Linked DNA regions of Homo sapiens. The protein of the gene in region 6 purifies or fractionates together with the protein of the main gene of each other region. This does not show direct contact. Each region holds a gene or a part of one and is shown on either strand. Other genes may lie near its edges. The genes, in order: PDK3, MFAP3, ZNF445, SEPTIN7, GMCL1, SYT12 and NXPE3.

Region 1 (3,500 bases), on a different chromosome or scaffold from region 6:
TAATTCTGAATAGTTGATCCCTTTCTCCAAACAGGTTGGTCTAATTCTTGGTGACACCTTGTAGCAGAAAAACTACTGCTTACAGGGAAAAAAAAAAAAAATCTGTCATTTACATATGTAAAGGTACAAAATAAACACACTCGGAAGCAGAATGAGATTGTTTTTCCCTTTTCCTAACATAATTTTTTTAAAAACCTTTCCATTTTCTCCAAGAACGCAATCACTGTTGTCCCCAGTGGTGATCAGGCTTCAAGGAGCAAAATGACTTAAAAAGCCAAGACTTTGCGAAAGGGAGTCATTTGGAACCAAAGTATCTCCAAAGTATCTTAAAATATGTTCTAAAGGAAAAGAAGATGGCTGGGCCCTTAAACTTTAAGAATAGTAAGAATGCGGAAACTGGCCGCTACCTTCTAAGAGCTAAAGGCTCTGAGGTTCACAGAGCCGGTGTGATTATGACAGAAATCAAAATATTTAGTTTTGTGAAAAGACGGCAGGGCTATCAGCAATCTGCTTTCTGGTGGTTTTGAGAGATGCTATATTTACACATGGGGACACTATGGAAGTTTAAACTTGGCTGGGCACAGTGGCTCACGTCTGTAATCCCAACACTTTGGGAGGCAGAGGCGGGTGGATCACCTGAAGTCAGGAGTTCGAGACCAGCCTGGCCAAGACGGTGAAACCCCGTCTCTGCTAAAAATACAAAAATTAGCCGGGCGTGGTGGCGCATGCCTGTAGTCCCAGGTACTCGGGAGGCTGAGGCACGAGAACTGCTTGAACCTGGGAGGCGGAGGTTGCAGTGAGCCGAGATGGTGCCACTGCACTCTAGCCTGGGCGACAGAGTGAGACTCCGTCTCAAAATAAATAAATAAATAAATAAATAAATAAATAAATAAATAAATAAAATAAACTTATATAACTGACTAAATGAAAGTGGCATAATGTTTAATAACCTCGATATGGAGTCAGGCATGCCATCAGTAATTGCCATTTATGGAGCACCTGCTCTGTGCAGAGCAAGCTGAGCTGAGGAAGCTGTAAGAGGTTACAAAAAAGAGGTGAGCGCCTGCCCTTTGGAAAGAGACAATTGAGGATAAAATCTAAGAAAAGGAGGCAGGAGCAAAATCTCTTTAATGCAAGTGTGGCTGTGCAAAAGTAACTGGAAAATCAAACAAATGGGACGTCAGTCTGCAGGGAGGGGAGAAAAGTGGTTAATATGGGAACCAGAAGCCGACAGGGCGAGACTGAAAGATGAAAAGCAAGTCCAAAAGAAAATGTGAATCATTTCCTACCAACTCATTCAACATTCAGAAGGTTCTATCTTTATGCCATAATAGTCCAAGTTCTCCTTTTCTTATATAATTAAGAGAATTTTTAATTTATCACAACTGCTTAAGGGAAAGAGAACTCAAATTTGTGCAAATATAACAAGGAGCCACCATAACATTAACTGCCAGTCAAAAACAATACATTGATCCAAAAATCCAGAGAGGTTTATAGAAAAAAATATGGAACAAGACATGTGAAAGTTATATTTCAGGAAATAAATTCAGGCCAGGCACGGTGACTCATGCCTGTAATCCCAGCACTTTGGGAGGCAGAGGCGGGTAGATCACCTAAGGTCAGGAGTTCGAGACCAGCCTGGGCAATAGGGCAAAACCCCGTCTCTACTAAAAATACAAAAATAAGCCAGGCGTGGTGGCAGACACCTGTAATCCCAGCTACTCGGGAGGCTGAGGCAGGAGAATCACCTGAACCCGGGAGGCAGAGGTTGCAGTGAGCCAAGACCAAGCCGTTGCACTCTGGCCTAGGTGACAGAGTGAGACTCTGTCTCAAATAAGTAAATAAATAAATAAATAAATTCAACAAATGTGTGGTTGGTTTTTTTGTTTTTGTTTGTTTGTTTGTTTTGTTTTTTGAGACGGAGTCTCACTCTAGCCAGGCTGGAGTGCAGTGGCGCAATCTTGGCCCACTGCAACCTCCACCTCCCAGGTTCAAGTAATTCTCCTGCCTCAGCCTCCCGAGTACCTGGGACTATAGGCGCCCACCACCATGCCTGGCTAATTTTTGTATTTTTAGTAGAGACGGGGTTTCACCACGTTGGCCAGGATGGTCTCAATCTCTTGACCTCGTGATCCACCCACCTCGGCCTCCCAAAGTGCTGGGATTACAGGCGTGAGCCACTGCACCCAGCCAATAAATGTTTATTCTGAACATTAAAATGTGATGTTTTCATTGCTCCCAATAAGGAATTAACATATATTATCTGAAGCCACACTGTCCAATATAAATATGTGAGCCAGGCCAGGGGCTGTGGCTCATGCCTGTAATCCTAGCACTTTGGGAGGCTGAGGTGGGCAGATCACCTGAGGTCGAGAGTTCAAGACCAGCCTGACCAACATGGAGAAACCCCATCTCTACTAAAAATACAAAATTAGCTGGGCATGTAGGCGCATGCCTGTAATCCCAGCTACTTGGGAGGCTGAGGCAGGAGAATCACTTGAACCTGGGAGGCGGAGGTTGCGGTGAGCCCAGATCGCACCATTGCACTCCAGCCTGGGCAACATGAGCAAAAACTCCGTCTCACAAAAAAAAAAAAAAAAAAAAAAAAAAGAAAGAAAGAAATATGTAAGCCATATATATAATTTAAAATTTCCTAGTAGCCACATTAACATAAAAAAGAAATAAAGTTTTTGATAATATTCCATTTAACCCAACATATCTAAAATATTACCATTTCAACATGCAATCAATATAAGATGTACTGATATTTTACTATTTTTATATTAAGTCTTTGAAATCCAGTGTGTATTTTATACTGAAAGCACATCTCAATTCAGAGGCTAAATTTCTATCAGAAATAATTGACCTATAAAGAGATTTCCTAAAATTTACAGGTGATAAAGTGGATTCCATATCCAAGTTATTCTACACAGATGTAAAAATTAACTGCATCAAGTATCCATTTTAAATTTAAATTAAGTCAATTCAGTTTTTCGGCCACACTAGCCACATTTCAAGTGCTCAAAGGTCTCCTGGCTGACAAGTGGTGACCCATATGGGACAAAGGTCTATAGAAATAAAGTAATAACTATAAAGATAACCACTAGAACCAAAAATTCAAGCCTAGTTATTTATTAAAATAAATATGGCAAAACAAAGCAAATATATAACATAGGAAAACTGAGGTATTAAAAACAGAAAGCAACAGAAAATTACAAATGCTTATCATTACAGATGACAGATCTATCATACCAGTAAGTATAAATAGGTTAAACTTACCACATGAAAAAGACTGATTCACAAAGCAAAACCCAACTTTACACTACATTTAGAGACATATTTAGAGCGAAGTAATTCAGAAAAACTGAAAATAAAAGGATGGCAATGCTATCCCAGGAAATGTAAACAAGAAAATAGGGAACTAGATCTCAATGTCAAATAAGGACGAATCCAGGCCAAAAAGCCTTCAACTAGTAAAAGGGCAGCACTCTAATGCTAAT
Region 2 (3,500 bases), on a different chromosome or scaffold from region 6:
ACATAAATAGAGTTATTGACTTCTAAAGCTATGGAACCTCCTTCATGGGCAAGAACATTAGACAACAGAATTTTCTTTTAATAGTTTCTCCAATACGAAGAGACAAAGTACAGTGTATTTAATAGTTTGTAAGCATACCAAATTTCTAGCTCAAACTCTGTAAACTAGCTAAGGGAGGAACTGACATCTTAAGTGTCTAGTTAGTAGAAATGCAAATATAAAACTACAGGGACAGATTGTTAGACACATTTAAAAGAAGAGCAAAATATCTTGAATAAAAGGCAAAATAACATCCTAGTCCAAAAGTCTATGTATTTATGATCACCTTCCTGGTAATTTGACTCCCCCTTTAAGCCACCAACTCTCAAAGAAAAAATTCAACTTTTATTTCTATAAAATATGGGATGAAATGCCTAGCTTTATGTCTTATAAAGCACCAAGATAATTAGTTTTGGAAATGACATTTACTCTCCTTTATATTTATATGAAGGCTGCTTGATCACAGAACATAAAAAACAATGAATCACTGTATTTTGCCATTAAATATCTCAAAGTCTAAATTACAATACGGTGCAAATGTCATTTAATTTTCATTAATTAACCCTTGAAAGGATGGTTGAATGGTGACAAATACTTTTCTAAATCTTTACAATTTAAGGATGGGGTATACAGAGTAAAATAAAAAACCTTCAGACTTTGGCAATACATGACACACTAAACGTGTTTATTTCCATTTCCTCCTAAAACCGCACAAAAAGGACACTAAAGGAAACAAAGACTTAGGCAGAGAGGGGATTTTGGAAGTAATATAATCTAATTGATTCAGTGCACAGTGATTTGCTTCTTACGACATGCTACAAGTTAGTAGGAGAATCTAGTTTGGAATACAGTCTCTTTTTTAAGAGGGGGTGATGGGTAGAAACAATGGAAATAACATTTATTGAATGACTGCCATCAGCCAAGCACTGTGCTAGGGGCTTGACATGTAAGTTTCCAAGCTCTTTTTCACTGCAAGATATACAGCAATTGGAGGACATAATTTTGTACTTTATTCTAGATTAGTGGTTCTCAACGGTGACAGGCTATGAGTGTGCTGAAAAAATGCTCCAGGCTTTCTCCAGAACTTTGATTAGGAGTTCCTATAGCTTCATCCAGGGCAGCACTTCCCAAACTTCATTCATTCCTTCTCCTGTCTTTTTTGTTGTTGTTGTTTTTACTATATCCATGAACCAAATTATCGTCATTTCTGCTTTTCTTTTAAATCAACTCATTTTATTTTTACTTTCACATTTATTTAAAAAGGAAACTCTACATCAGTTCTGTGGACAAATGTAACCGTACACATAAACATAATGAAAACAAAGAAGTGTTATTAGCTTCCAGAGATACTACTGCCTGCTGAAAGGCTTTGAGCTGGAGGCTTGCTCTCTCTGTAGTAAAACCAAAACCAAAACAAAAAGCCCCCCACAACTCCAGTTTATTTTAATGCCACCTCATTTCTTAACCTGCCATCTCCTTCCTTTCTACTCTTCCCCACCACTGAGTTTGAGATCGGAGGGATACATTTTCATATACTGAACAGTATCTATTGAGCACCTACCATGTGCCTACCTACTGCCCCATAGACATTGTCTCGGCCTCCACGAAGTTCAGTCTGGCAGATGATGGACACTAACTACATATATACAAAATAAACTCAATGTTACCCAAGGGAAAATACAGATGCTACAGGAGGACCCAACATGGGGAGTTAATCTCATCATGGAAAGCCTCTGAGAAAAAGAGGTGTGCAGCACCTATTCTTCAGGTGCAGGACCTGAAGAATAAAGAGGAATAAAAATTGGGAGGAAAGCACTCAAGGTAGAGGGCCAGGAGACAGGGAAAAATGAGAGGGGTCACTGGTCAGGAGTTGTTCACAAAAAACAGCTAAAAAATTGTGGTAAAGACAGGCAGTGGCCAAAAATGCTGCGTCTGATTCCTGATTCTGGAGGAGAACTAACTGGGCCAATGGTGAAACTGGAGATAGACTCCGGAAGCTGCAGTGGCTGAAGTGAGTGAGGGAGATATTCGTCCATGATGAAGACGTCAAACAACTGAGAGGCTCAAACGTGGGCAGATCACCTGGGGGTATGGTCACATCCCCCCAGGATCAAAGTAGCTAGTGTAGAAGAAACTGGAAAGAAAGGAAATGGATTCGGTCTTCCTGCTCTGAGATTCAGGAACTTCAGCAGAATGAACAGCTGTCACAGGCGAGGGCTGCAGGGCAATGAGTGTCCTCACCAACACAAGGCTTGGCAAAGCATAACTCCCACATGGAATTCTGCCTTCCCGCAAACTTCCTGAACCTCCTATCAAGGCCTTAGCTATTCCTCCTACATAAATTCAGAGTATAGCTGTATAAAGGATGGCTTCTCCTTCACCCCAGAGCCCTCCCCACCTACCGTACTCATCTGGCGCTGGTATATGCTGCTCTGTACTGCTAGGCAGTCTATCCCATCTCAACTACCCCTTAAGAACAAGGCCTATATTTTTTATTGCTGTACGTCATAACTAGCACATGCTCAATAAATATTGATGGAGATTAGTTTAAATTTGATTCAGTATGTGACAGATCTTTATAAATTGAATAATGTTATGCAACAGGGATTATAATTGTTCAAACTGACATACAGTTGCCTATTATAAATTCTCTGAAACAAAAACAGTCAATGCTAACAATCTTGGAAGACCTTAAAAGTACCTAATTAAATGCATTCTTCCGACTCCCAACCTGATACCTTCATTTACCATGTTGTCCTAGAGGATAATGGTAGGAATAAAAGATCACCAAGTGCAGTTTCCAAACCAGGTTGAATATCACAACTGTCAGGAGAGCTTTTTAAAAATATGGATTCCCAGGTCCCAACCCAGAACGAGTAAGAAACTCTGTGTTTGCGCCTTGGAATTTATGACTTTTAATTGGCTCCCTGGGTGTTTCTGAGGCATTGGATTCATGTACTGCATCTAAGGGCCACTAATACAGTTCCTCAATTTCCTCTGCAACTGACCTGCAGAATGGTGCTTCAGGCTATTTGAATATTTCCAATGAGAGATATAATCACTCACATTCCATTCTAGATTTAGATTACTCTAGATCAGCAAAATTGAAGGTCTCTAATAAGAGCAGGGTAGCAGAGAGGTTCAGAGTATAGGATTCAAATACGATCTGTGACTCTAACCAGCCTTGCAACTTTTATAAATGACTTAATCTCCCTGCCTCAGCCCCTCATCTTTAAAATGGGCAAAATAACAGAATCTATTCTCACAGGATTATTGCAAAGTCTGAATGAGGTAGTATACATAAAACACAGAGTCTGGCAATGGTAATCACTGAATAAGCTCTATTATTATTGTTCATGGTTCTTTCAGATATTGAACTAAAATTTACATTTGATAGTTACATCATTATAAAACACTCAGAATACCATGCAACCATTTAAAAATCTTGGGGGTTGGGGGGA
Region 3 (3,500 bases), on a different chromosome or scaffold from region 6:
AGCATCAGCTCCCCTGTGTGCAGGAGAAGGGCAGGAAGAACGAACGCACTTGAACTGACCAGCTGCTGCTCTCCTGCCAGGCCTGGGACTGCCAACTCTGCCAGGGCCAGGCACATGATAAGCACTTGAATATTTACCGAACAAATTCTCACGATTAAACCATTTCTGCATTTTCTTCTCAACGAACAGAGGCTCTGAAAGGTACAACTATGTGGCCACAGATGTTGAGGTTGTGGAATGAAGTCTAAAATCGAGGTCTTCCTATTTCTCAGCCCAGCTCTGCCCCTCAGCACTCATGACCATCTTCCCTGCCTCCCATCTCACACACATAGAAAAGGTCCTCAAAAGCTTAGTGAGAAGGGCTGGGCACAGTGGTTCATACCTGTAATCCCAGCATTTTGGGAGGCCAAGGCGGATGGATCACCTGAGGTCAGGAGTTTGAGACCAGCCTGGCCAAAATGGTAAAACCTCATCTCTACTAAAAATACAAACAAAATTAGCTGGGAGTGGTGGGGTATGCCTCAAAAAAAAAAAGAAAAGAAAAGAAAAAAAAAAGCTTACTGAGAAGGAAGCTACATGGTGCCTGCAGAGCGCTCTTCTGAGTTTTAACATGTACTCTCCCACTGAGAAGCCAAGAGCCCTAACCCTAAATGCTGTCCCAACACCCACCACTTTACAGGGCTATGGTTAGTCTCAAGTCAAATTAGATAATATGTGGAGATGGACTTTGTATACTGTAAGCCACTGTGTCCAAAGACTAGTTACTGGGCTTTTTTGTTTAGAGATAGGGTCTTGCTGTGTCACCCAGGCTGGAGCGCAGTGGTGCAATCACGGCTCACTGCAGCCTTGACCTAACCTGGGTTCAAGTGATCCTCCCACCTCAGTCCCCCAAGTAGCTGGGACTACAGTCACATGCTACCACATTCAGCTAATTTTTGTAGAAACAGGGTTTTGCCATGTTGCCCAGGCTGGTCACGAATTCCTGCACTCAAGCAATCCGCCCACCTTGGACTCTAAAGTGCTTAGATTACAGGTGTGAGCCACTATGCCTGGCCTAATTTTTAAATTATGTATAGAGACAGTGTGGGGGGGTCCTCCTATGTTGTCCAGGCTGGCTTGAACTCCTGGCCTCAAGCAATCCTCCCACCTCAGCCTCCTAAAGTGCTGGGATTACATGTGTGAGCCACTGTGCCCAGAAGTTGCTGTTATTTATGGAGACTTGCTGACCCTATCTGGAGCTGATATTCCTCTGGGAAGGTAGGAAAGGATACCTGCTAAAGGGTCCGTGGCTCAGGGTCCCGTTCTCAGCTGCTCAGGTACCATGGGAAGAAAGGAAGGCTTCCCCTGCACTCCTCTATATTGACAGTTTAGAGGGCCACCCCCATCCCCAGACAAGCTGGCTCACTAGCAGGCAGAGTTCCCTGGGCACCACACACTTGCTCACACTCACCCTCCAGGATGTCCCATCAAGGTCCCTCTGCAGCTCCTCCAGCAAGGCCACAGCCTCCTCGCCACTCTCAGGGTTATGAAGCTGCACCCAAACCCGGAGCTCCCCAGGCAGGATGCTCAGGAACTGTTCCAGCACCAGCAGCTCTAGGATCTGTGCCTTGGAGAGAACGTCAGGCCTCAGCCACCAGCGACAGAGTTCCCGGAGCCGGCTCAGAGTTTCTAGGGGCCCTGAAGACTCATGGTAGCGAAGCTGTCTGAAGAGCTGGCGGAACAGCTCCTGGCCAGGGCGGTTGAGAGTCTGTGGCCTGGCAGCCTGCACTGGAGTATAGCTTTCATCCTCTTCTTCCTTCTTTACTGTCTGAAGCCGCCCTCGCTCCCTCGAAGACTGGGCCTGAGCTGGATAGGCAGCATGCCACCTGCCTGGAGGCATCACTCCTGTTCAGGGACTAACCAGAAGAGTGCGAACCAAGTCCACCTTAGACGTGGGTCCTCAGAAGTATCTTCTCAGCAGTCAACAATGCCAACATTTGCTGGGACATCAGAAGTCATCAGCAAGTGACTGAAATTACCAGCATTTCTGTGCAGGAGGGGATGAGAGAATAATGTCCATTATACATGGTGCAGTTGGATTCTGCTGGTTGGGATCATCTTTGTATATATAAGAAGAGCGTTTGCACAAAGGTATATGCCAGTATCAAGTAGACCAGAGCTAGGCTGTCCCCTATTGGAGTAAGCTAAGAAAATACCCCACAATAAAACATATACTGAACTTATACATTAAAACTTCGTAAAAAACACAAAGGGATGATGAAAAAAGTCAGAGAAGATCTAAATAAATGAACAGACATACCGTATGCATGTACTGGAAGATGTGACACAGTAAAGATGTAAATTCTCTCCACATTTATCTACAGGTCTAATGCAAATCCTACCAAAATCTCAACAAGATTTTTTGTAGACATAGATAAATTTATGTGGAAAGGCAATGGGATTAGAATAGCTAAAATTATGACAGGTCAGGCATGGTGGCTCACACCTGTAATCCTAGCACTTTGGAAAGCGGAGGTGGGAGGATTGCCTGAGCTCAGGAGTTCGAGACCAGCCTGGGCAACATGGCAAGACCCCGTCTCTACTAAAAGTACAAAAAATGAGCCAGGCATGGTGGTGCGTGCCTGTAATCCCAGCTACTCAGGAAGCTGAGGCACAAGAATCACTTGAACCCGGGAGGCAGAGGTTGCAGTGAACCAAGATCGTGCCACTGCACTCCAGCCTGGGCAACAGAGCAAGGGTCTGTCTCAAAACAAGCAAGCAAGCAAGCAAACAAACAAAACCAAAAAACAATTATGACAAGGAAGAATAAATTGGGAGGGATCAGTCTGAAAACAGTCTACCTGATTTCAAGACTTATAGCTATATTAATCAATTCTGTGTAGTACTGGTGGAGGAAGAGACACATAGGTCAATGGAATAAAATAGAAAAACCAGAAACAGAACCACACAAGAATGCCCAACTGACTTTTTAAATATCAAATGTGATTTTGCTATTATAATATTTTAAAATATCTCAAATGAGCAATTCAAAAACAAAAACAAAAAAATCCTGAGAATCCAATCCCCTAGTTGATTTTACGACCCAACAATGGGTTACAAATTATAATTTGAAAACTACTAATCCAGCTTCCCACTCAACTCTTGTATTTCTTTTTATAATTCATCATAAAATGTGGTGTCCAAGGGTTCAAGTCACTTTCAGGAGGTAATACTTTGGGAGGCCGAAGTGGGCGGACTGCTTGAGGTCAGGAGTTTGAGAACAGCCTGGCCAACATGGCAAAACTCCAGGTCTACAAAAAATACAAAAAATTAGCTGGGCATGGTGGCATGTGCCTATAATCCCAGCTACTCGGGAGGCTGAGGCACAAGAATTGCTTGCGCCTGGGAAGCAGAGGTTTGCAGTGAGACAAGATCGTGGCACTGCACTCTACACTCCAGCCTGGGTAACAGAGCGAGACTCCATCTCAAAAAAGGGACTATCTGGAGTATATTTCGGGCTC
Region 4 (3,500 bases), on a different chromosome or scaffold from region 6:
TGGCTCATGCCTGTAATCCCAGCACTTTGGGAGGCCAAGGTGGGCAGATTGCCTCAGGTCAGGAGTTCGATACCAGTCTGGCCAACATGGTGAAACCCCGTCTCTACTAAAAATACAAAAAAATTAGCCAGGCGTGGTGGCATGTGCCTGTAATCCCAGCTACTCGGGAGGCTGAGGCAGAGGAATTGCTTGAACCAGGGAGGTGGAGGTTGCAGTGAGCCTCTGTCTCACCACTGCACTCCAGCCTGGGCGACAGAGCGAGCCTCTGTCTCAAAAAAAAAAAAACTCATTAACTCATTACAATCTGAATGGACAATAACAATATATAAGGATACAAAATGTCACTCCTGCAAAGAAACACTAGCATAACCCTGAGTCTGAAGCAACTGCTGCTGTGAAACGTACCAGCTGAAATTTTAAATAAGTAAACATCTGGCTGGGCGCGGTGGCTCACGCCTGTAATCCCAGCACTTTGGGAGGCCAAGGCGGGCGGATCATGAGGTCAGGAGATTGAGACCATCCTGGCTAACACGGTGAAACCCAGGCTCTACTAAAAACACAAAAAATTAGCCAGGTGTGGTGGCGGGCGCCTGTAGTCCCAGCTACTCGGGAGGCTGAGGCAGAAGAATGGCGTTAACGTGGGAGGCGGAGCTGGCAATGAGCTGAGATCGCGCCACTGCACTATAGCCTGGGTGACAGAGCAAGACTCCATCTCAAAAAAAAAAAAAAAGGAAACATTTTAGTACTACCCCAGAAACTGGAGACCTCAGTCTATATTTGAAGGACAACGAAGTTTCACACAAATCACTTTATTGTAATTTCCTTCAACTCTGTTCACAAACTCACTTACTAAACATAAAAATTCAAAGCACAAATGAATACATTTACAATTATCAGAAAATGTTTATTTTCTATCCTAGATGTCTTCCTAGTATTGAGACCCTACAAGACATGTCCACTTGGATGTCCCCCAGGCCTCTCAATTTCATGTTTCAAATTACCTATTTCAAGAAATAGCATCTATTCATCTACCCATTCACTCAAGTCAGAAAGCTCAAATATTCTGGACTCATTACTCACCACCCACATCTTCCCTAACACCTTACAACCATCCCCCTCATGTCCTTTCCCATTGCCCTGCTTCTGACCAATTTTTAGTCCTAAACTGCTACATTAAACTCCTTCAATTTAATGGCTCCAACCTGGTGCCCTGTCAACTCTCAACAGAGAGAATTATCATCACGATTCTTACGATTACCACTTTTCTTTTAAAGCCTTCAATAAAGATTTTTAAATTCTCAGCACAGCAATACCAGTTGCCTACTTACCTCTTCTAACCTCATAACCTGATACTAACATAATTTCTCAGTCTAGAATAATTATCTTTACTCCTTCACCTCCTTTACCTAATCACTCCTACCGACTTTCAAAGATTCACCTTCTCCAGCATGGAAAAGGTATCCTGCTTTGAACTTTCACTGTATGCTCTGCATACCTTTATATCGTATCACAAATTTTTTACTAAATGCAAGCCAGTTATGGGTTGGGGACACAAAGGTGAACAAAACACAGGCCTAGACTTTAAGCACAGTGGAGGCAGAACATAAAGTCAACTGCAATATAGTCTGATAACTTTTTTTAAGCTAACATCTCAGTGTTTATTATATGCCAGGCATCATGCTAAGGATTTGTCATGTACTATCTCATTTACTTCTCCAATAACCTTATGATTCCCACATTACAGAGAAGGAAAAATAGAAGTTCTGTTATTTGCCAAAGGTTCAGTTAAGCTTTAGAACTGAGATATGAATCCAAGTCTGACTCTAGATCCGAAAACTCTTAATCACCATGCCTCTATTTCAACTGCCACAGCATTTAATTCAGTTTCCCCAGTGGCCAGCACACAGCAAGTACAAAACGTGTATTTGTTAAGTGAATGAACTTGATTGTTGAAGTTCTAAACTAATGACTTAACAGCAATATTACCAATACTTAACATCAATGTTATGATACTATAACATCAATACATTATTGATATAATGACAATGTCAATACTACAACTTTTAAGTGGTAGTCTCCTGCTTCAAAGAGTTCAAAAACTAACAGTTAGTGTATTTGTTAGATACACTAACAAATGTGAAGAGATCAATATCCCAAGTGACTCACCATGTCAAAGTTGGTAATAGCAAAACACTGGAAATTAATGTCTATCAGAGGCAGACATGTTAAACAAATCAAAATATATCCCATATCATGATCTATCCATATGCTATGGTCTTAATGTGTTCTCCCAAAATTTGTATGTTGATACTTAATCACTAGTAATGGTATTAATAGGATTAATGACCTTATAAAAGAGGTGCAAGGGAGGTGCTTGACCCTTTTGCTCCTTCTACTATGTTAGGGCACAGCATTTGTTCCCTCCAAAGGAAGTAGCATTTAAGGTGCCATCTTGGAAGCAGAGACGCCAAACCTGCTGGCACTGTGATCTTAGACTTCCTAGCTTCCAGAATGGTAAGAAATAGATTTCTGTTCCTTATAAATTACCCAGTCTCAGGTATTTTGTTGGAGCAGCACAAACAGACTGAGATATCATGTAACGGTTATGCAGCTGTATAAAAGAATAAGAATGCTCTTTATGTACTGATACGGAATAACCCAAATTACACTCATTGGAAAAAAACATGTGGGAAATAATGTGTCTTAATGCTACCAAGGGTGGGGGCAGGAAGGATAAATGTTTTTAACTTCCATATGCAAAAAACACCTTTGGAAGAACATACAAGAAACTGTTAACACAGGATGCCGAGGACTAGGAAACTGGGTGACTTGGGGGTAGAAGTAAGAAGGAGATTTCACTGTATCTCTCTGTTTAACCTTTTGAATTTTGAACCAAGTGATTATATTACCTATTAAAAAAAACAACAACAAAAAAAACCAGGCTGGGTGCGGTGGCTTGCACCTGTAATCCCAGCACTTTAGGAAGCCAAGGCAGGCAGATCACGAGGTCAGGAGAGACCAGCCTGACCAACATGGTGAAACCCCGTCTCTACTAAAAATACAAAAATTAGCTAGGCGTGGTGGCATGTGCCTGTAATCCCAGCTACTTAGGAGGCTGAGGAAGGAGAATCACTTGAACCCAGGAGGCAGAGGTTGCAGTGAGCCACGATCATGCCACTAGCCTGGGTGACAGAGCAAGACTCCGTCTCAAAAAAACAAAACAACAACAAAAAACCTCCCAATAAAATTTTTAAAAAGCAACCAGGTGCGGTGGCTCACACCTGTAATCCCATCACTTTGGGAGGCCAAGGCAGGTGGATCACCTGAGGTCGAGAGTTCGAGACCAGCCTGACCAATGTGGAGAAACCCTGTCTCTACTAAAAATACAAAAATTGGCAGGGCACAGTGGCTCACGCCTGTAATCCCAGCACTTTGGGAGGCCAAGACGGGCGGATCATGAGGTCAGCAGATTGAGACCATCCTGGCTAACACAGTGAAAC
Region 5 (3,500 bases), on a different chromosome or scaffold from region 6:
CCACATTTTGTTTCTCTAGCATCTGTCAGTGAACATGTGGGTTGCTTCCACCTTTTGGCTATTGTGAATAATGCTGTTATGAACATAAGTATACAAAAATATCTGTTTAAGTCCCTATTTTCAATTCTTCTGGTCTATAGAAGAGAAACTGCTGGATCATATGGTAATTCTGTTTAATTTTTTTGAGGAAGTGTCATACCATGCTCCATAGTGGCTGTGCCATTTTACATGGCCACGAGCAGTACACAAGGGTTCTAAATACTCCACATCCTTGCCAACACCTGTTACTTTTGTTGTTTTTTTTCTATTCTGTTTTTACTAATAGCTATCCTAATAGGTGTGAAGTGATAGCTCATTGTGATTTTGGTTTGTATGTCCCTAATTAGTAATGTTGAACATCTTTTCATGTGTTTATTAGCCATTTATATATCTTCTTTGGAGAAATGTTTATGGAAGTCTTTGGCCCATTTTTGAGCTGAGTTGAGTTTTCTTTTTAAATTATAGAGTTGTAGGAGTTTTCTATATATTCTGGGTATTAATGTCTTATCAAATGTAGCGTTACAAATATCTGCTCTCATTCCATGGGTTGCCTTTTCACTGTCTTGACACTGTCCTCTGATACACAAGTTTGTGATTTTGATGAAGTCCAATTTTATCTACTGCTTCTTTTGTTGCCTGTGCTTGGGTGTCTTATGGAAGAAATCACTGCCAAATCAATTGTTATGAAGCTTTTCCCCTATGTTTTCTTCCAAGAGTTTCATAGTTGCAGTTCTTATGCTTAGATCTTTGATCCATTTTAAGTTAATTTTTGTATTTGGTGTAAGGTAAGTATAAATATATGACTTTTAAATCATGTTCATTAAGCTACTGTCCAATTTGTCAGCTTCTGGTATCCTCTCAGAAAAAGATTGCCAGCAACTACTGGGCAAAATTTAACATATTAAATCCTTTAAAAAGTTAAGGATAATATGTGTTTTCCTGGAAACATACCTTGCTACATATTTCAACAGTCTGGATCTTTTATTTGCTAGGAATAGCAACAAGGCAACGACTTCAAGGCTGATATTCCCTACTGGTATATATTCCAGCCTATTCATTCTCCCTGACATACTAGATCCTATGATTCTGATTACTAACAATAGATTTCACAGGAATGGAGCCTCGTCATTTCCTACCACTTCCACATATACTGTAGCTTACCAAAGTTCTACTAATGTTGGTGTAAATTATCAAGGTTTTATTTCTTATATTTTCTCTGGAGTGAGGAGGAGTGGGGTGGGGAAATCTCATCCTACCTAAATGCTATGCTCCTTCGAGGCTGTAAACTGACAGATCCGCTACATGGCTGATTCAGTGTATTGCGTTTGAAAATGATGTATCGATTGGTGTAAGTTACAAGTAGGTCGAAGCCGAAGTTAAAACCTGTCCAACGCCAGCAGTACTAAAAAATACAAGAGAGAAGACTTATTTCAGTTTATCATATTAGCAAGTAGAAAATAAAAAATTCAAAATGTCTTTTTGTCTCTAACTCATTCCAAGTATTTCCCTCATGGGTGGTCGACTTTTTGTCAGTGACTTTTTCTTAAGGCTTACCACCCAAAACTATTTATCTAAGCTAGAAAAGCTGCCCTTAATGATCATAATTCTCTAAGCTACTTTCCTCTTCATGATCAGTTTCCTTATCTCTCCATACTGCAATTCTACCATAAATAATAAGGCTTTTTTTTTTTTTTTTTTTTTTTGAGACAGAGTCTCATTCTGTCACTCAGGCTGGAGTGCAGTGGCATGATCTTGGCTCACTGCAACCTCCACCTCCCGGGTTCAAGCGATTCTCCTGCCTCAGCCTCCCAAGTAGCTGGGACTACAGGTCCCTGCCACCACGCCCGGCTAATTTTTTTTTTTTTTTTTTTGAGACAGAGGTTTGCTCTAGTTGCCCAGGCTGGAGTGCAATGGCATGATCTTGGCTCACCACAACCTCCACCTCCCGGGTTCAAGCGATTCTCCTGCCTCAGCCTCCTGAGTAGCTGGGATTACAGGCATGCGCCAAGCCTGGCTAATTTTGTATTTTTAGTAGAGACGGGGTTTTTCCATGTTGGTCAGGCTGGTCTCGAACTCCCGACCTCAGGTGATCCGCCCGCCTCGGCCTCCCAAAGTGCTGGGACTACAAAGTGTAAGCCACTGTGCCCGGCCTTTTTTTTTTGTATTTTGAGTAGAGACGGGGTTTCACTATGTTGGCCAGGCTGGTCTTGAACTGCTGACCTTGTGATCCACACGCCTCGGCCTCCCAAAGCGCTGGGATTACAGGCGTGAGCCACTGCACCCAGCAATAATAAGGCTTTTCACTGCAACTCTAAGTGGGTATATAGCTTAGAGCACTAAGAGTTTCTAGAGCACTAAGGTAATTAAGAGCCCATTAAAATCCACCTTGCTTTAAAAATACTCTTAAGGGCTGGGTGTGGTGGCTCACGCCTGTAATCCCAGCACTTTGGGAGGCCGAGGCGGGTGGATCACCTGAGGTCTGAGGTTCAAAAACAGCCTGGCCAACATGGCGAAACCCCATCTCTACTAAAAATACAAAAAAGAATAAAAAAAAATAAAAATAAAAATAAAAATAAAATACTCTAACTCAAGTAACACACAACTGGGTTATTTAAATATCATCATGGGGTTCACGAGTTTGTTTATTCTATCAGCTAATAGTTAATGTGAGAGTATCAGATAAGGTAGTGTGATACAGAGAAGTAGTTAGGGCTTCAAGTGTTTGGCTGACACCCTGAATTGCAATTCAGTATTTAACTGATATTTATTGAGCACATATTATATGCCAGGCACTCCTCTAAGCAATGGAATCATAGCAGTAAATAACATACAGTTTCTGCCCTAGTAGAGGTGATAACTGTAAGGGCAAAGCTTTTTTTTTTTTAAAGAGACAGGGTCTCGTTATATTGCCCAGGCTGAACTCTAACTCCTGGGTTCAAGCAATTTTTCCACCTAAGCCTCCCAAGTAGCTGGAATTGCAGGTGCATACCACTGTGCCTGGCTGGAGCAAAGCTTTTGAATAGGTGAGCATGGATAGAGTCCAGTACAAAGAGAGGGAATGGACTAAGATAGAAGTAGGCAGTTCATTTTTCTAATAAGATGAAATGCATAGCGCATAGCTACAGGTGCAGGTAGACTGGCAGAACTACTGGTAAGATGATGTACAGATTCTCTTTTCATTGCAGTAGGCAGCAAGGCCATCAGATAAGAATAAGGGTGGGAGCATTGCCCTTTTAAGGAGAGAAGGTATGAGTTACCTCAGCTAATGGGAGGATCAATTCACTAGGAAAATGCAGACAGATCATGATGCAGCACTAACCTACTTCAAGTTCATGGTTACCACATTCAAGTGGAACCCAATGGGGTACGGTGTTTGTCTTTAATCACATTCATCTGTCTGGATGCAGGCATGGAGTGCAACCCTTGACAAGAGTTGGGGTTTAGCCAGGTGAGTTTAACAT
Region 6 (3,500 bases):
GATCCACCAGCCTTGGTCTCCCAAAGTGCTGAGATTACAGGTGTGAGCCACAGCGCCTGGCCAAATTTCAAATACGTTTTTAATATGTGTGTCCCAAATATTCCACAGGACATATTTACGCCAAAATCTTTTCCATTGTTCATCCAAAACATCAATGCTCCTGGGTGTCCTGTTTTTGTATTTGCCAAATCTGGCAACCCCAGCTCATTTCCATCCTAACAACATCAGGCTGACCAGCGGCGACGCAGTAGGTGACTCATTAGAGCAAGGCCCCCCTGGCTTGAGCCAGAGCCTTCCTTCAAATGCTTCCATTTTGATTGGGAAGGAAAGGCTGCGTGTCTGCAATATTCTATTATCAGTCCTTTCACTGCTTGGCATGGTTTCTTCCCCACCCCATCCTCCACCCCCAGCTTTTAGGAATGACTGAGGCTTAAGTTGTTCTAGAAAGGTCTGGGAGCTCGTACAACCCATTACCTGAACCTAGGTGACTGCTCATTGTTTTATTAGTGTGCTAAGAAGTAAATCTGGCTCACAGATGTGTTCTAAGTGGGTGTATGTGGGAGTCCTGGAAAAAGGAATTTGGGATGGGCTGCACTGATCTCAGGTCAAGGGCACCGAGGGCCAGGATAATGCCCACCCCAATTTCTGGATTCCCTTGTAGTTCAGAGAGGTGGTTACACATGGTAAGCCTGCAGGCCTGGTGCAGGGTGGTAGGGCAAGGGGAAGGGGAGGTAAGAACTGCAGAGTGATGGCCTGGCCCAAGGGCAGCTGCATTTTTGCCCCAGCAGGAATGCCAACCACCGTGGCTTGATCTTCTGGCACTTTAAAGAAAAGCCAGATACCTGAATTTTTTATGTGCCATTTCCTGAGTTTTAAAGGTAGCAACCAATTTGCAAAAAAATGCAAACACCATTCAGACGCAGTATAAAAAGTCCTTGGGGAGTGTGACCCACCAATTCCCAACCCCTCGGAGCATCCTGTAGGTTCCCTTTGGGACTGGGGTCGAATCAGAGGGTAAAGCTAAGGCCCTCCACATTTTCAGGAATTCCGGGGTTCTCCCCAGTCTGTGGCTTTGGAGTCAAGAAGCTTCGGTGCCATGCTCCAGTCAGGGTTATCCAGCACATTTGGGGTGCCATAAGTCCTAGTCTACCCCCTTAAGTCCTGGAGGTGCCCAGGAGCCTCTAGAAGCAGGTCAGATAAGGTGCACAGCCAGCTCCTGGCTTCCAGTTCTCCTGATGCTGCCCCCACTCCCACAAGGAGATGTGCGTTGTCATGGTGATGGAAGGGTGGTGCTAAGCCAGGAAGGGCTTCACCCATCCTGACTAGAGTGGAAGCTCATTCCTGGGCCTGGGCTGGAGATAATGATAGTAATAGAGAACCTTGTCGAGCCCTTCTTACACATCAAGCGCCATTCTAAGCACTTTGCATTTATCTGACCTCATTTAATTTGCCTAACAGCCCCATGAGGTAGGTACTATTATTATCTCTGGTTTGCGGGTGAGAGTCCCAGGGCGTAATTTGCCCCAGGCCACACAGCTAATAAACTGTTCAACCCAGGCCAACTGGCTCCATGCTCCTAACCACTGTGTCTCACTGCAAGTGGGCATATGGTTTCCAAAAAGTTTCCTAAGAATCTGCAGGTCAAATGGGTCACCATGTACCTGCCCAAGGTGGTCCTAGCTCCTGGCGGAAGCTGGTCTGGATACGCTGAAACACATGCTAATGTACACACACGCACCTCCCAGCCTGCTTCTGCCTTGCCGGGAATCAGATAAGCCATCGGCTTTTTCCTGCTTACCTGGCACAAGCTGACTTTGCAAGAGTGGGGCCAAGCTGGGACAGCCAATGCCCGCAGCACGCGAGCAAGGTATGCATGGCAAAGTACACCCCACAGCACAACAGGCGTGGTACGGGACAAAGCCTCAAGCTGCATCTGGCCTCTGGCTGTCGGGGGCCCCATCACCTCCATGGCTGGCCCAGCTCAGACCCCAGACTCCCACGCTGTCTGTTCTTTCCTCTCCCTTTAACACGACATCCTTTCCCAGGGAGCTGAGATTTCAGTGAGGGTGTGAATGACTGCTAGGCACACCCCAGACAGAAGTTCCTTCTTTTTTTTTTTTTTTTTTTTTTTTTTGAGACAGAGCCTCACTGTGTCACCCAGGCTTGAATGCAATGGCGCGATCTCAGCTCACTGCAACCTCTGCCTCCTGGGTTCAAGTGATTCTCCTGCCTCAGCCTCCCAAGTAGCTGGGATTACAGGCATGAGCCACCATGCCCAGCTAGTTTTTGTATTTTCAGTAGAGACGGGGTTTCATCATGTTGGCCAGGATGGTCTTGAACTCCTGACCTCAATGATCCTCCCATCTTGGCCTCCCAAAGTGCTAGGATTACAGGCGTGAGCCACCGCCCCTGGCCTCCAGACATATGTTCCAGCCTGGTGCCCTGTGAAGGCAGAGCTCATTTGCCTGAGTGGAGGGAGAAGAGAACTGGGAGAGAGGTCGAGGCTCCTAGAGGGTGTCATCCTGAGCACAGGGTTTGTAGTCAGCTGCACCCAGCTCTGACTCCCATACCTGCCCCTGGCTAGCTGCAGTGGCCTTGGGTAATTTTCTTAGTCTCTTAGAGCCTCAGTTCCCCACCTGTAAAGCAGATGTGAGGCTGCCAGGAGGGTGGAATGAGAAGGTACGTGTAGTCAGGCTTGGCACATATTGGTTGCTGTGGTTAGCAGCCTGGTGATGGCCCATACAGACCCCCTAACCCCTAGTCTGGGCAGTGTGGGCAGCACTGCCAGCCTACAGATGTGTTTATTTGTCTTACATTTAAGTGAGTTGCCAACATTTTAAAATTGAAAAATTTAGCTGGGTGCAGTGGGTCATGCCTGTAGTCCCAGCTACTGGGGAGGCTGGTGTGGGAGGATCTCTTGAGCCCAGGAGTTCAAAACCAGTCTGGACAACATAGTGAGACTGTGCCTCAAAAAAAAAGTGTGTGTGTGTGCGGGGAGAGTTTCCCATTAAAAATTGATTTAAAAAGGATTTCCAGCTTCCCTTTGAAAATTAGAAGATCTGGCCGGGCGCGGTGGCTCAGGCCTGTAATCCCAGCACTTTGGGAGGCCGAGGCAGGCGGATCACCTGAGTTCGGGAGTTTGAGACCAGCCTGACCCACACGGAGAAACCCCATCTCTGCTAAAAATACAAAATTAGCCGGGCTTGGTGGCACATGCCTGTAATCCCAGCTACTTGGGAAGGCTGAGGCAGAAGAATCGCTTGAACCTAGGAGGTGGAGGTTGCAGTGAGCCAAGATCGCACCACTGCACTCCAGCCTGGGCAACAAGAGCAAAACTCCATCTCAAAAAAAAAGAAAGAAAAGAAAAAAAGAAAGTTAGAAGATATGGGGACAATGGGTTTGCATCCCCCGACTCCAACAGGAGTTGGAGCTAAGTCGGCATTGCCCCTTCCCTGGCTGCTCCCATCCTTCCATTCACTGCTAGAACCTGTTGAGCCCTG
Region 7 (3,500 bases), on a different chromosome or scaffold from region 6:
AGTGTGGAATACCACCATTGCATCAGAATCACTGAGCACTCGCCACAAAGGTTGGTTTCATAAATCCCAGAGGCATCATGGTCCCTCTTTTTTTTTTTTTTTTTTTTTTAGAGACAGGGTCTTGCCCTGTTGCCCAGACTGGAGTACAGTGGCACAATCAAGGCTCACTGCAACCTCTGCAACCTTCTGCCTCCTGGGCTCAAGCAATCCTCCCACCTCAGCCTCCTAAGTAGCGGGGACTACAGGTGGTGCCACCACACCCAGCTAGTTTTTGTATTTTTTTGTAGAGATGGGGTTTCACCATGGCACCCAGGCTGGTCTTGACCTTCCGGGCTCAAGCAATCCGCCCACCTCAGCCTCCCGAGACTATAATCCCTGCTGGGATTACAGATGTGAGCCAACATCCCTGGCCTTAATTCTTTTATTATTTAACAAAAATTTTTTAGAGATAAGATCTCTTGTCTGTTGCCCAAGTGGGAGTGTAGTGGCGCAATCATAACTCACTGCAGCCTCAAACTACTGGGCTCAATCAATCACCCTGCCTTAGCCTCCCTAGTAGCTGGGACTGTCGGCCCACACCTGGATAATTTTTTATTTTTTGTAGAGATGAGGTCTTACTATGTTGCCCAGGCTGGTCTCAAACTCCTGGCCTCAAGCAATCCTCCTGCCTGGCCTCCCAAAGTGCTGGGATTACAGGCTTGAGCTACCACACCCTGCCATGACTCTTTAATTCTGCATTTTTGTCAGATACTACAAGTGATCCTTAGGTACTGTAAAGCGTAAGGACCATTAAAATTAAACTATTTTAATATATTTTATTACCTCATTAGGCTCAGAAACAATTAAAAATCTTCTTTCCCCCTAAAATACTTTAAAAACTTGAAGGTGTTCCTCAAGGACAGGAAAGTAAGATCTGGGGCCCTCCTATTTTAAATTAAAAACCCAAATTATTTGACCCATTCTTCTAAGGGTATATATTGTTCATACTTCAAGCATCTGTCTTCCTCTCTAAAGCCTCCCTAGTTTCTTCATCTGTCTACTTAGGAGCAACTTAAACTAGACTATAATCTATCACAGCTCAAAAAGAAAAGAGTACTTACTAAATGATCCCAAATTAAACTCGTTTAAAATTAATAAGTCAAATAAAATTAATAATTCCATTCTTCTTAGATAGCCAGTAGGAATAGCAGCTTCTTCCAAGCATGAGAGAATGGGTGTGCCTTTTATGCCCAAATCAAGAAATACCAAAAAACAAACAAACAAACAAACAAAAAACTGTCATGAATTTTAGTATCTTATTAATTTCTAATTAGATTTTAACTTCTAATTTTGGTAAGTAGTTCAAAATAACAACAACAACAACAAAAAAAAAAACACCTGAAACTAGTGGAAAAAACTTCCACAGCTTTATAATATCGTAGCATTCTTTACACAAAAGTCAATTCCTAAACCCTCAAATTTCAGAACATAAAAATAAATTTCCATTTACAGATTTCCCCCTTCCAGTTCCAAAAGTAGTTATTCTAGAGTAAGTATTCAACACATAAAATTTAGCTGAATCAAATAAAAAACAATCACCAAATGCAAATATCAATTCCAAAGCACAGATTTTATATATACTGCTTTCATATTTCCCTTTTGCTTCTTTTCTAGATAAAAGCAGGAAATTGTAAATATTCACTAAAAAACTCGAACCAAGCACATTGGCCTTTTCAAGTAATTCAGAAAAGGTAGATCATCAAGAGAAACTCCTGAGACACAGCAGTCTTCAGTGCATTCACAAGAGCCTCTGACTATAAGCTTTCTCTAGTTAACCGCCAGAAGATGGATTACTTGTGCTATGCATGCAGATGCACTCAATTTCCTTTACCAGATAAGCTACAAACACTCTACTACCAACCAAACTTGTCCCTTCCATCAAAACATTTTTCATACTCTTTAGCAAAGTAGTCACCCCTCCTAGGAGAAGCTAATTCAAATACACTCATTAGCATCTTTGGTTACAAGAGCAATATAGTGTGTAGATGCAGTTAAGAGTTCTACCATGGCTAAGTCAACATTGGATAAAATCCTATAGGTAGATATAAATGTAACCTGCATTTTCTAAGCTCCTTATAAGTCATCATATTAAGTCCAGATCTTTTTGAAATTTTATACTTATTAAGGGCAGTCATCTCTCACTGGGGCCACTTTCTGTAACTCAGGTCAATTGAGAAGGTCATTGAATATGATTCCTCCAGTCCCTTCCAAGACAGGCTAGGTTTCCAAGGGGCACACAAAGGACAAGAACATGTCCAGCTGGTTCTTCACAATAACTTCATCTGGATGCAGCTTGTGCGGTAGATAATGGGCCAGGGTCATCTCCCAGGCATCGACGAGATATACTCCAACCCCTGAGAACATCCTCCGAAGGATGGTGTCCAGCTGAAAGTTGTACCAGTCGCTGTTGAAAAGGCTCACCTCAGGTCCCAGCTCTTGGGCGTTGGCCGTCCGGATGACCACCACGGTCTTTGGGCTTCGATCGAGGAGCCGAACCACTGCTCGACGGATGTTCCTGAGCCGCCGGATGTACACTTCCAAAGGGAAGGTGCTGAAGTGAGACCATACAGCTATGGCAACCACTGTGTTCTTCCCTCCCACAATGCCATTCAGCTCATTCGCCACATAATGGAGCTCATTGCTAAAGACAGTCGTGAAGCGGATGGGTGGACCATGGCAGCGGTATTTGAGCAGGATGTTGTGCTTCTGGTCCACTGCAAGGAAGGGACCCACATTCTTGGGACTACCCAAGTTAAACTCCACTAAATCTGAAACAAGGAAAACTCAAGTTCATAAAAACCTTCAAACCAAGCACATATATTTTGATTATACCTTATTAAGTGGCTTCAAATAACAATTTTTTTTTAAGTACAACAAAAAGGTACAATATAAATGTAAAGGGAATACCTATTTCACTGAACTCTGCCCCCTTTTGTATCAATGGGCCTTTATTCTAACATGTTTATTATTTAAATTATTACATAAACATAACATTCATTATAAATAACACCATCAGTGATAGACTCTACACTACACCTGTCTATGCCTGAAAAACAAAATAACCCATTTTTCTCTAATTATTAGGCCAAGAAATGTTGCTATTTGCACTGATCATTGCAATCTTTTTTATCTATGTCTAAAAAGTTTGGGTTTTTTTACTTTTATTTTAGGTTTGGGAGTGCACGTAAAGGTTTGTTACATAGGAAAATGTGTCACATATTATTTCATCACCCAGGTTTTAAGCCCAGTACCCAATAGTTACCTTGTCTGCTCCTCTCCTTCCTCCCAACTCCCCCACTCAAGTAGACCCCAGTGTCTACTGTTTCCTTCTGTGTGTTCATAAGTTCTTATCATTTAGCTCCCGCTTATAAGTGAGAACATGCAATATTTGGTTTTCTGTTCCTGTGTTAGTTTGCTAAAGATAATAGCCTCCAGCTCCATCCATGCTCCCACAAAAGATA

Evidence for each region.
Region 1: the proteins of SYT12 (region 6) and PDK3 purify together in Homo sapiens (co-immunoprecipitation; 3 studies listed by BioGRID and IntAct, with this or other methods). This does not show direct contact.
Region 2: the proteins of SYT12 (region 6) and MFAP3 purify together in Homo sapiens (affinity purification with mass spectrometry; 2 studies listed by BioGRID and IntAct, with this or other methods). This does not show direct contact.
Region 3: the proteins of SYT12 (region 6) and ZNF445 purify together in Homo sapiens (affinity purification with mass spectrometry; 2 studies listed by BioGRID and IntAct, with this or other methods). This does not show direct contact.
Region 4: the proteins of SYT12 (region 6) and SEPTIN7 purify together in Homo sapiens (co-immunoprecipitation; one large-scale study listed by IntAct). This does not show direct contact.
Region 5: the proteins of SYT12 (region 6) and GMCL1 purify together in Homo sapiens (affinity purification with mass spectrometry; 2 studies listed by BioGRID and IntAct, with this or other methods). This does not show direct contact.
Region 7: the proteins of SYT12 (region 6) and NXPE3 purify together in Homo sapiens (affinity purification with mass spectrometry; 2 studies listed by BioGRID and IntAct, with this or other methods). This does not show direct contact.

The regions. Positions count from the first base shown.
Region 1 is NC_000023.11:24,471,786-24,475,285, reverse strand, and holds part of PDK3 (pyruvate dehydrogenase kinase, isozyme 3 isoform 2 precursor), read right to left. Parts: intron 1-3,500. UniProt on the Homo sapiens protein: Inhibits pyruvate dehydrogenase activity by phosphorylation of the E1 subunit PDHA1, and thereby regulates glucose metabolism and aerobic respiration. Can also phosphorylate PDHA2.
Region 2 is NC_000005.10:154,045,467-154,048,966, reverse strand, and holds part of MFAP3 (microfibril-associated glycoprotein 3 isoform 1 precursor), read right to left. Parts: intron 1-3,500. UniProt on the Homo sapiens protein: Component of the elastin-associated microfibrils.
Region 3 is NC_000003.12:44,453,671-44,457,170, forward strand, and holds part of ZNF445 (zinc finger protein 445), read right to left. Parts: intron 2,027-3,500; 5' UTR 1,880-2,026; coding exon 1,451-1,879; intron 1-1,450. UniProt on the Homo sapiens protein: Transcription regulator required to maintain maternal and paternal gene imprinting, a process by which gene expression is restricted in a parent of origin-specific manner by epigenetic modification of genomic DNA and chromatin, including DNA methylation.
Region 4 is NC_000007.14:35,807,557-35,811,056, reverse strand, and holds part of SEPTIN7 (septin-7), read right to left. Parts: intron 1-3,500.
Region 5 is NC_000002.12:69,867,660-69,871,159, reverse strand, and holds part of GMCL1 (germ cell-less protein-like 1), read right to left. Parts: intron 3,462-3,500; exon of another isoform or gene 3,359-3,461; intron 1,442-3,358; coding exon 1,296-1,441; intron 1-1,295. UniProt on the Homo sapiens protein: Possible function in spermatogenesis. Enhances the degradation of MDM2 and increases the amount of p53 probably by modulating the nucleocytoplasmic transport.
Region 6 is NC_000011.10:67,026,134-67,029,633, reverse strand, and holds part of SYT12 (synaptotagmin-12), read right to left. Parts: intron 2,118-3,500; exon of another isoform or gene 1-2,117. UniProt on the Homo sapiens protein: Synaptic vesicle phosphoprotein that enhances spontaneous neurotransmitter release but does not effect induced neurotransmitter release. Unlike other synaptotagmins, it does not bind Ca(2+) or phospholipids.
Region 7 is NC_000003.12:101,820,711-101,824,210, reverse strand, and holds part of NXPE3 (NXPE family member 3 isoform 1 precursor), read right to left. Parts: intron 2,808-3,500; coding exon 2,257-2,807; 3' UTR 1-2,256.